Regions from separate parts of the Homo sapiens genome. Here region 2 is linked to region 1. A link means that fine-mapping ties the variant in region 1 to the expression of a gene that starts in the linked region. Tissue or cell type: whole blood. Region 1 holds a variant in brackets; the other region holds the start of a gene. All regions are shown on one strand. Distances are between the middles of the regions.

The links. PIP is the estimated chance that this variant, and not a neighbour inherited with it, causes the effect.
Region 2: PLPPR2 starts here. The variant in region 1 is fine-mapped to the expression of PLPPR2 in whole blood (INTERVAL, PIP above 0.99).

The regions. Positions count from the first base shown.
Region 1 is chr19:11,319,434-11,324,774 of GRCh38, forward strand. RAB3D (RAB3D, member RAS oncogene family) reads right to left here. Exons shown (of 5, transcript NM_004283.4): 5 at 2,635-5,341. It overlaps TSPAN16-AS1 (TSPAN16 antisense RNA 1), which reads right to left and starts at 1,892. Exons shown (of 3, transcript NR_187778.1): 1 at 1,791-1,892. It also overlaps a transcript of TSPAN16 not described here. RefSeq lists an enhancer at 4,815-5,024. The variant AAAG/A (reference allele first, on the strand shown) is at 2,912.
Region 2 is chr19:11,352,655-11,357,654 of GRCh38, forward strand. It overlaps PLPPR2 (phospholipid phosphatase related 2), which reads left to right and starts at 2,778. Exons shown (of 10, transcript NM_001393892.1): 1 at 2,778-2,918; 2 at 4,148-4,322. It overlaps CCDC159 (coiled-coil domain containing 159), which reads left to right. Exons shown (of 11, transcript NM_001080503.3): 8 at 797-918; 9 at 1,138-1,220; 10 at 1,926-2,042; 11 at 2,219-2,290. The coding sequence ends at 2,223. RefSeq lists a silencer at 2,598-3,047 and an enhancer at 3,690-4,631.

The DNA.
Region 1 (5,341 bases):
CTAAAAATGCAAAAGTTAGCCGGGCGTGGTGGCACACGCCCTGTAATCCCAGCTACTCCGGAGGCTGAGGCAGAAGAATCGCTTGAACCGGGAGGCGGAGCTTGCAGTGAGCCGAGATCGCGCCACTGCACTCCAGCCTGGGCGACAGAGCGAGACTCTGTCTCAAAACAAACAAAACAAAACAAAACAAAACAAAAAAACAAAAAAAGGAGACAACTCAGGAACAGCCAAATGGAAGTGATAAAGAGGGCAATGTGTGGGGGATGGTGTGCAGCACTTCCACACCCTTTCTTGGGGAGGGGGGCACCACCCTTCCAGCACCTCCATGTGTTCATCAACTCAGAAGCTCTCCAAACCTGTCATTTAGGTTGTATTTTGTTTTGTTTTGTTTTGTTTTTTGAGACGGAGTCTCGCTCTGTCGCCCAGGCTGGAATGCAGTGACGCGATCTTGGCTCACTGCAAGCTCCACCTCCCGGGTTCACGCCATTCTCCTGCCTCAGCCTCCCGCGTAGCTGGGACTACAGGCGCCCGCCACCACGCCCGGCTAATTTTTTTGTTGTATTTTCAGTGGAGACGGGGTCTTACCGTGTTAGCCAGGATGATCTCGATCTCTTGACCTCGTGACCTGCCCGCCTCCGCCTCCCAAGGTGCTGGGATTACAGGCCTGAGCCACTACGCCCGGCCAGGACTTTTTTTTTTTTTTTTGAGACGGAGTTTCTCTCTTGTCATCCAGGCTGGAGTGCAATGGCACGATCTCGGCACACCCCAACTTCTGCCCCACTTGTTCAAGCGATTCTCCCGCCTCAGCCTCCCGAGTAGCTGGGATTACAGGCATGTGCCACCAGGCCCAGCTATTTGTTATATTTTTAGTAGAGATGGGGTTTTGTCATGTTGGCCAGGCTGATCTCAAACTCCTGACCTCAAGTGATCCTCCTGCCTCAGCCTCCCAAAGTGCTGGAATGACAGGCATGAGCCACCACACCTGGCCAATCCTAGCACTTTGGGAGGCCAAGGCGGGAGCATGGCTGGAAGCTGGGAGTTCAAGACCAGCCTGGGCAACATAGCAAGATCCCATCTCTCAATCACTCAATCAGCTGGATGTGGTGGTGCTTGCTTGTAGTTCCAGAAACTCAGGAGGCTGAAGTGGGAGGATCCTTTGAGTCCAGGAGTTCGAGGCTGCAGTGAGCCATGATTGTGCCACTGCACTCCAGCCAGGGCCATACGGCAAGACCTTGTCTCCAAAAAAAAAAAAAAGAAAAGAAAAGAAAAAGAAAAAAGAAATGCTGGGGAGGGAGATTGCAGTACTAAATCAGGGGAGGGGGCAGTGAGAAAGTGAGATTTGCACAGTAGCCCAAAAGAGGAAGTTCAGTTAGGGGAGCTTTGTTGTATTAGTCTGTTTTCCTACTGCTGGAAAGAACTGCCCAAGACTGGGTAATTTATAAAGGAAAGAGGTTTGCCCGTGTACGGTGGTTCACGCCTGTAATCCCAGCATTTTGGGAGGCCAAGGTGGGCAGATCATGAGGTCAGGCGTTCGAGACCAGCCTGGCCAACGTGGTGAAACCCCGTCTCTACTAAAAACACAAAAATTAGCCAGGCGTAGTGGAGTGTGCCTGTAATCCCAGCTACTCGGGAGGCTGAGGCAGGAGAATTGCTTGAACCTGGGAGGCGGAGGTTGCAGTGAGCCAAGATGGCACCACTGCACTCCAGCTGGGTGGCAGAGTAGGACTGAGTCTCAAAAAAAAAAAAACAAAAAAATACCCAAAAAAACATAAGAGGTTTAATTTACTCACAGTTCAACATGGCTGGGGAGGCCTCAGGAAATTTACAATTATAACAGAAGGCAAAGGGGAAGCCAGATACCTTCTTCACAAGGTGGCAGGAAGGAGAAGAGCCGAGAGAAGGCGGAAGAATCCCTTATAAAACCATCAGATCTCGTGAGAACTCACTTGCTATCAGGAGAACAGCATGGGGGAACCGCCCCCAGGATTCAATGACCTCCACCTGGTCTCTCCCTTGACACGTGAGGATTATGGGGATTACAATTCCAGATGAGATTTGGGTGGGGACACAAAGCCAAACCATATCAACTGTGACTACCTTGGGTAAGGGCCATCCAGGCAGAGGCAGGGGGAACATTCTGGGCAAAGGCCTTGGGGCAGGGGCCTGGTATGTTCAGATAGCAGCAAGTAGGCCAGAGTGGCCGGAGGGGAGCAAGTGTGGGGAGGCCAGTGGAGAGATGAGGGTAGGGAAGGGATGGATCAGATCATGCAGGGCCCCGGGGGCCACAGGAAGGACCTCAGCATTTACTGCAAGTAAGGTGGGAGCCATCGAATGTTCTAAGCAGAGGAGGAATGCGCTGTGACTCAGGTGTTCACAGGTGCCCTCTTGCTGCTGGGGAGAGAACTGAGCTTTTTACTAGAAGTAGTTGAGGGAAATAGTGTCCTCCCTACCTTCCATATAACAGAGCTTTCCAAGGTCAAGGTGGTGGCCATGGGACCCAGTGGGAGGCAGCCCGAGGCCCGGTGAGGTTTCTGCTGTGTCTTGAAGAGCCCTTGACTGATATCTGCTTAGTTGCAAATCAAACCCCCTTTCCCAGAAACGCACTTCACTAATGGAAATAAAAGCACAACTATATTTGGGCACGACGGATTTAAGTTTTTCTTGTTGAGAAGAGTACATCTTTCCAAACTGGACATCAAGGAATTGCTACACAGAAGAACCACATCCAGGATAGAAAGGACCAGCCAGAGCTCGTTCAGTAGTGTATTTCAGAATCATCAGGGAGGAGCCGGTAGCAGAATTATCCCGTTAACACTGAGACCACATTTCACCTGTTACTTATTTTTCTAAATGGAGTAGGAGAGAAAGATGCTAAAATGTGATCTTGGGAGGAGTCCCCCAGTCCCCCGAA[AAAG/A]AAGAAGAAAAAAAAAAAGCAGAACTCCAAACCCCTGTGGTCATGGCAATTTCCCATCAAAACTGCCCATGTAAAATAAACACAAGCTGCTAAAAGTGAATGTTAAGAAGGAAGGCACTGGTTAGTGGGTGGTCCTGACCAATCCCCTGGAGCTGGAGAGGGGTTTTCCCACGGCCTTTGGTTTAATGTGTCTGTAAACTCAACAAACCTCCGTTTCCCTGAGGTAATCTGCAAAAACATCAGTTTTCAGTCCCCAGAGACCATTTCCAATTAAACCTCACCCCCCAAATCATTCAATGTAACATTTGCCTTATTTTTAGAAGAAACAAATGTTCCCATATTATTCCCAGTTTTTGAGAGAATCCTGAGGCAGCTCTCTCGGCTGCTACTTGAAGTTGAATTCTTGAAAAATCTTATGTAAACAGAAAGCTTAGGCCAGGTCAGGAGTAAAATGCAGTCAAAGCTGTTTCTCATCACACAGGTGATTACAGGTTAGCTCTGCCCTATTCAAGACAATCTGATCCATTCCTTTTTTTGACAGCAGTTTAGAGACAATTGGCCAACAAAACCAGCCTGGCCAACAAGGTGAAACCGTCGCTACTAAAAATGCAAAACTTAGATGGGCGTGGTGGCAGGTGCCTGTAGTCCCAGCTACTTAGGAGGCTGAGACAGGAGAATCGCTTGAACCCGGGAGGTGGAGGTTGCAGTGAGCTGAGATCATGCTACTGCACTGCGGCCTGGGCGACGAGCGACTCTCTGTCTTAAAAAAAAAAAAAACAAAAAAACCTCAGCAGGCCATACTGCATCTTGAGAAGTCTTTTTGAAGCTACTTTAGTTTGACTTTAGTGTTAAAGTAGCTAAAAATTTTTGACTCCCGCCCACATATTCAGATACCCTCACTTTGTGCATAGGATTTGTCCATTACACCTCAGTCATCTAATTTGTTGGTATAAAAGATACCCTCGGCTGGGCGTGATGGCTCACGCCTGTAATCCCAGCACTTTGGGAGGCCGAAGCAAGTGGATCACTTGAAGTCAGTTTGAGACAAGCCTCACCAACATGGTGAAACCCCTTCTCTACTAAAAATACAAAATTTAGCCGGGTGTGGTGGCAGGTGCCTGTAATGCCAGCTACTCGGGAGGCTGAGGCAGGAGAATCGCTTGAACCCTGGAGGTGGAGGTTGCAGTAAGCTGAGATTGTGCCACCGCACTCCAGCCTGGGCAATAGAGCGAGACTCTGTATCAAAAAAACAAATGAAAAAAAGATACCCCACTCCAAAGTTCTAAGGGTAGCCTCTGGTATGAAGAAACCAGGGCTCCCTAGAAATAAATCTAAACTTGAACCAGGCTTTCCCCCTCACACATACCCCAGGGAAGAGGCTGAGCTCATGAAAGCTGCAGGAAGTCATTTTGGCTTCAGGGGCTGGGAGAGCAGACACAACCTCTGAAACAGAGTCAGGGACGTGGGAACATAAAACATCCACTTAGCCATCCTAACAGTGCTGGTCCTGTGAAGGGGTGTTGGTTGGTGTTTGGGAGCAAAGAAAAGGTGCTGCGCCCCTAGAGTTTGGAATCTGATGGGCAGAAAGTGCCTCTAAACCGGAGGTCAAGATGTACATCTTCAAACTGCACACGTAACCTCTGAGCAGAAGCCCCTGGAGGTGGGGACCCCAGCTTCAGAGACTCCCCGGCACTGATCACAGTCCATCCCCCCCATTCACATAAGGTCCTGCCACTCTCAGGCTGTCTACAAAGTACAAGCAGTGACAGCAAGTTACTCAATCCTACCTCCTCACCCCTTCCGCCCAACCCCCAGCATCCCTTAGAAGTGACCCCTAGTTTGAGGCTGTGGTGAGCTATGATTGCACCACTGCACTCCAGCCTGGGTGACAGAGCCAGACCATCTCAAAAAGAAAAAAAAAAAAAAAGAAGTGACTCCTCCATTAGCAAAAATTGTCACATCCCTGGGCCCTGCCGATGACAAGGATTGGGAAATGGACATTGGGTCTTGAAGGGCCCCCCTCAAGTCGGAGCCCAGGTGCTTACATCAGAAAGTCGCCGACAACTGCCTGCGGTGGCTGGGAACGTTGCTTCATTTCCTTTTCTAGCAGGATGCATGATTGGGCAAGAACTTGCTTAAAACACAACCAGCTAAACAGCTAAACAGGGCCTGGGAGGGAGGCCCCAGCCCCAGGCTCCTGGCTCTGAGGTTAATTAACTTCTGGCCGAAAGCCCAGAGCCGGAGTGCTAGGGGTTGGGCGAATCTCTGCCCAGTCTAATGTGGTCCATAGTTCCAGAATTCACTTCAGGATCAGAGATGTGGTGAACACAGCAAAAACAGTGGCAGGGTCGTGGGTGATGTGGATCTTGGGGGAAGCTTGGAAGGCACTTCTGGGGTCCCTGAAGCCGGGGGGTTGAGGGGATCTGA
Region 2 (5,000 bases), 33 kb after region 1:
GGGTGCTGTGGCATGCCTGTTATCTCAGCACTTTGGGAGGCTGAGGTGGTTGGATTGCTTGAGGCCAGAAGTTCAAGACCAGCCTAGGCAACATGGCAAAACCCTGTCTCTACAAAAAACAAAAAAAACAAGAGGGTGTGGTGGCACATGCCTGTAGACTTAGCTACTCAGAAGGCTGAGGTAGGGGGATCACTTGAGCCTTGGAGGTTCAGGGTGCGTTGAGCCCTGATAGTACCATTGCACTCTAGCCTGGGCGACAGACTGAGACCCTGTCTCAAAAAAGAAACAAACACCAAAAACAAAAACAAAAAACAAAACAAAAAAAAACACTCCTCCCTACCTGATCAGGTGTCTGTATTAGCTGAGTACTGTGCACTTGAATGCAGTCTGGCATATAACAAGTGCTATATAACAGTCACCTTTTACTATTATCATTATTATTATTTATTTTGTTTTCTTTTTTGAGACGGAGTTTCCCTCTTGTTGCCCAGGCTGGAGTGCAATGGCGCGATCTCAACTCACTGCAACCTCTGCCTCCTGGGTTCAAGCAATTCTCCTGCCTCAGCCTCTCGAGTAGCTGGGACAACAGGCGCCCGCCACCACGCCCGGCTAACTTTTTGTATTTTTAGTAGAGATGCGGTTTCACTGTGTTAGCCAGGATGGTCTCAATCTCCTGACCTCGTGATCTGCCCGCCTCGGCCTCCCAAAGTGCTGGGATTACAGGTGTGAGCCACCGCGCCTGGCACTATTGTCATTATTATTATGACTGCTGTTCTCTCATCCCTCCCCACCCCAGATCCTGACCAAGATGAAGCAGCAGGGTCATGAGACAGCCGCCTGTCCGGAGACTGAAGAGATACCGCAGGGAGCCAGTGGCTGCTGGAAGGATGACCTCCAGAAGGAACTGAGTGATATATGGTGATGCCCAGCCTGCAGTCTGACCCCTGACCCTCCTCTGAACCCGTTCCCCCAACGGGATCTGGCAGTGACCACCAGAACCTGGAGCCCACCTGAGTCCAGACTTCCCTCACCCCCTAGGACTCACCCCACCACGGCCCCCAACCTTAGCTGTACTGCTGTCTACACCCTGAGCAGTGTGGAGTCTCCCAGCGCCCCCAGCTCCTTGTCTTCTTGCAGGTCTGCTGTGCACGTGCTGCAGAACTCCATAGACAGCCTCACTTTGTGCTCGGGGGCCTGTCCCAAGGCCTCGAGCCTAAGAGGTGAGGGAGGCTGAGAATTGCTCAGGGGTGGGAGGTCATTGTCTAGCTTCACAGGGAGGCTATGTTCAGAGAGCCTATTTGGGAGTCACATCTGATGGGTGTTATTCTATGGTCACATTAAGTAGTGTTCTGGGGTCACATTAAGGAGTCACTGGAGGTTTCATCCAGGAGTCATTCATGGTCACATTCAGAGTCACTTGGATCTTATATGAGTCCATGGGGACTCCACACAGTGGCTCATGCCTGTAATCCTAATATTTTGGGAGGCTGAGGTGGGAGGATTACTTGAGTCTAGGAGTTTGAGACCAGCCTGGGCAACACAGTGAGACCCCATCTCTCCAAAAAATTTAAAAACTAGCTGGGTGATGGTGCACCTGTGGCTGAGCACACCTGTAGTCTCAGCTACTCAGGAGGCTGAGACAGGAGGATCGCTTGAGCCTGCGAGGTTGAGGCTGCAGTGAGCCATAATCGTGCCACTGCACTCCAGTCTGGGCAACAGAGCGAGACCCCATCTCTAAAAAAAAAAGTGTCAATTGGGTAAAATGCAAGGGTCATTGAAGTCATAATTTGGTGTCACACTGGATCACATTCAAGGGAATTGGGGGTCATGGTTTAAGTATCAATGAGGTATACTATGAAGGGACACAGGGCCTATATTTGGGGGTTACTTGAGGGTCACATTCAGGGAACCTGTCCCTCCTGCAGGCCACAAGGGGCACCAGTGCCTGAGCCCTCCACTCCCCTCCTGGGACTCTGACTCCGACTGTGACCAGGACCTCTCCCAGCCACCTTTCAGCAAGAGCGGCCGCTCCTTCCCACCCGGTGCAGATCCTCCCCAGTCCCCCCCTCCACCCATTTCCCTCCTGACCTGCCCTTGACTCCCACAGTCTAGACCCTCAGAACAGGCCCAGATCCTGATCTGGGCATGCGGTCCCTGACCTGCAGCCCCGGAGTCCCCTGGACCTGGCCAGGCCCTGACCCACCCTCTCTCTCCACAGCTTGAGCAGCCGGGACTGCTCTCCCTGAAGACCCCTCCAGAGAGAAAATAAACTAGCCCAGACCCTCCTCTAGCCCCGACTGTTAGTCTTGCTGCTTCCTGTGCCTAGGAATCCCCCTGCCCTCCTAGTTTACCCCTCATTGTTGGGGGGGAGGGGTGTAGAGACCCCAGGGGTCATTCGGGATGTGTGGGCTTGGAATCAGGGGACATCTGAAGCCAGATTTAATATATGACAAGGCAAGGAGTCATTCTGTCCAGACACGAGCAGCCAGACAGACTTCCACACTGGCCACAGAGCCTTCCTTTCTGGGGGGCCCTGGCGAATGGGGAAACTGAGGCCCAGAGAGGGAGAGGCGCGGCCCAGGGACATACTCTGAAGCCCCTCCCTCCTATTACCCTCGGAGCCCCGCCCACCCCAGGGTCCTCCCTCTCTACTTCCATTCTTGGTTCCTTCCTACAATCGATGCTAACACGCCCCGCCTCCAAGATCACGGAGGCCCCGCCCCACGGGGCTATGCAAATGAGACGCCCGGAGGCCCCGCCCCTCCCTCCACCTCGGAGTCTGCGCGGCGCGGCCAGGCCCGGCCGACCGCGTCTCGGTCTTCGCGTCTGCCAGCCTGGCTGGCAGTCCGTCTGTCCATCCCGCCGCGCCGGGGCAGTCTAGGCGGAGCGGGGGCTCAGGCGGCGGCGGCCTCGACGCGGTGAGAGGAGGGGGTGGGGGCGCCCCTCATCCCCTCCCGTGGGCTTCCCACCCCCGGTGTCGGTCTCCGGTTCCTGAGGGTTGGGTCCCTCTGGGTCCAGCGCGGGGAGGGGCGGGGGAGGGGAGGCGGCGAGCTGGGGGAGGGGACCGGGCTGGGGGAGGGGACCCCGGGCCGAGGAGCCAGCACCGGTGGTGAGGGCGGCTGTGGGTAACTGTGATTGTGTGGTTGTCATTGTGTGTCTGTGTGTGGTTGTGTAACTGTCATCGTGTGGCTGCATGACTGGGATTGTGTGGTTTCGGGAGGTCCGCGGGTGTGTGTGTGTGTGTGTCACTGTCATTGTGCGGCTGTCGTTGTGGGTGTCACTCTGATGGTTTGTGTGTGTGTGTCTGGCTATGCTGTGACTGCCATTGGCCCCCCGTGTGGCTGCTGTCTCTGTGTGTGACTGTCTTGGTGTTCGTGTGGTTGTGTGCATAGGACTGTCATTGTGTGGCTCCTGTTGTGTGTTCATTCTGATGGTGTGTATGTGTGTGTGGCTGTGGTCGTGCGCTGTGCACCTTTCTTGTGTGGCATTGTGAGTCTGTGTCATGGTCCATGGATGTGGCCATGTGGTTGTAGATGGCACCTTGTCTCTCCCCTGTGACTGTTGGTGTGAATAAGAGACTGTTAGTGTGTGTGTGGCTGTCGCTGAGTGCCTTGTAATTGGGGGTGTGACGCTGTGATGAGTTCTGTGACCCCCATTGTGTGCGGTGACTCTTTTCTGTGACTCTTAAGTGTGTTGCAGGCCTGACTGTGTGTCCCTGACTGTAGCGGTGTGGGGGCTTGTGTGGGACTGTGATGTGTGTAGGGTCTCCTGACATGTCTCTCTCTGTTTGGCCTGGGGTGGGGGTGGGGACTTGTTTGATCTGTTTGGTGTCTCTGACAGGCTATGAGCCCACTGTGTGTGAGTATGCAGTGACATGTGTTGTGTGTGTTGGACACCTGTCTGAACAAGGGGGCCCCTCTTGTTTACTGCAAAGTGGCGCCCAGCACAGCGCCTGGAAGTCGGCAGGTGCTCGGTCTTCACTGTGGGATGGGTGAACGCTATGCCATGGTTGTGTGTGTGTGTGTGTGTGTGTGTGTGTGGTGCCAGGATGGAGGCTGCGGCTGGGTTGTGCTTCCTAAGGGTGACAGCATGGGTGACTCTGGGTATCTAGGACCTCTGGCAACCATCACCCCATATCACACTGCAGAGTGAGTGTCGTGGTTGGGGTGCTGGACCCAGAGTGCCTACCCTCGCCTGCCTGGGCCTCAGTTTCCACATCTGCACAATGGGGGTGACCATCCCTGCCCTGCTGGCTGCCAGGAGCGGCTGTGAGTCTTCAGGCGTGGATGCAGCCTGGGGGAAGCCATAGGGCGCTTTCACAGGTGAGATGGGGCTGGGAGAATGGATGCAAGCAGGTGTGACTGTGTTGAGCCCTAAAGCGCTGGGGACTGGGGGTAGCCTTGGGGGAGGGAAGAGGAGAACTGGGAGGCAGACCGGCTGGGAAGAGGGGGAAGGAGGGAGAGGCAGTTGGCAGAGAAGGAGGGCTTGGCTATCAGCCCAACCAGACACCAACACCACAGCCCATGGGGACAGAGAGAGGGGCCCCTGCAGAGGCCATGGAGGAAGCGACTCAGGGGAAGGGTCTGGTAGGGATGGGGGCCCCTTGGGAAAGAGGATGGTGTCCCCTAAAAACTAGTGGGGACCCTTCTAAGTGCCATGGGGGAGGGGTTCCCATGAGGCTGGGGAGTCTCTTCTAAAGGCCCACCTCCTAAAGGGCATTGGGTCAGAGCCTCCCATGTAGGCTGTAAAGGAAGGGACCCCCGTAGACTCTTGGGGAGTGGTGTCAGAGGAGGCAGGTGTCCCCAGTAGGGTCAGGACCAACAGGGCAGGACCTGGATTGCAGAGGCATGGCCAGAAGGTTCAAGGGACAGAGTCAGGGCCTCCCCGGGTCTTCAGGGCCAGGGGTGTGGCCAAAGGACTCAGGGGATGAAGCCAGGGTCCCGGTGACCTGAGCCTTCCCCTAGGCACACCCCCTGGGACTCCCACTCCCTCCCCACCTC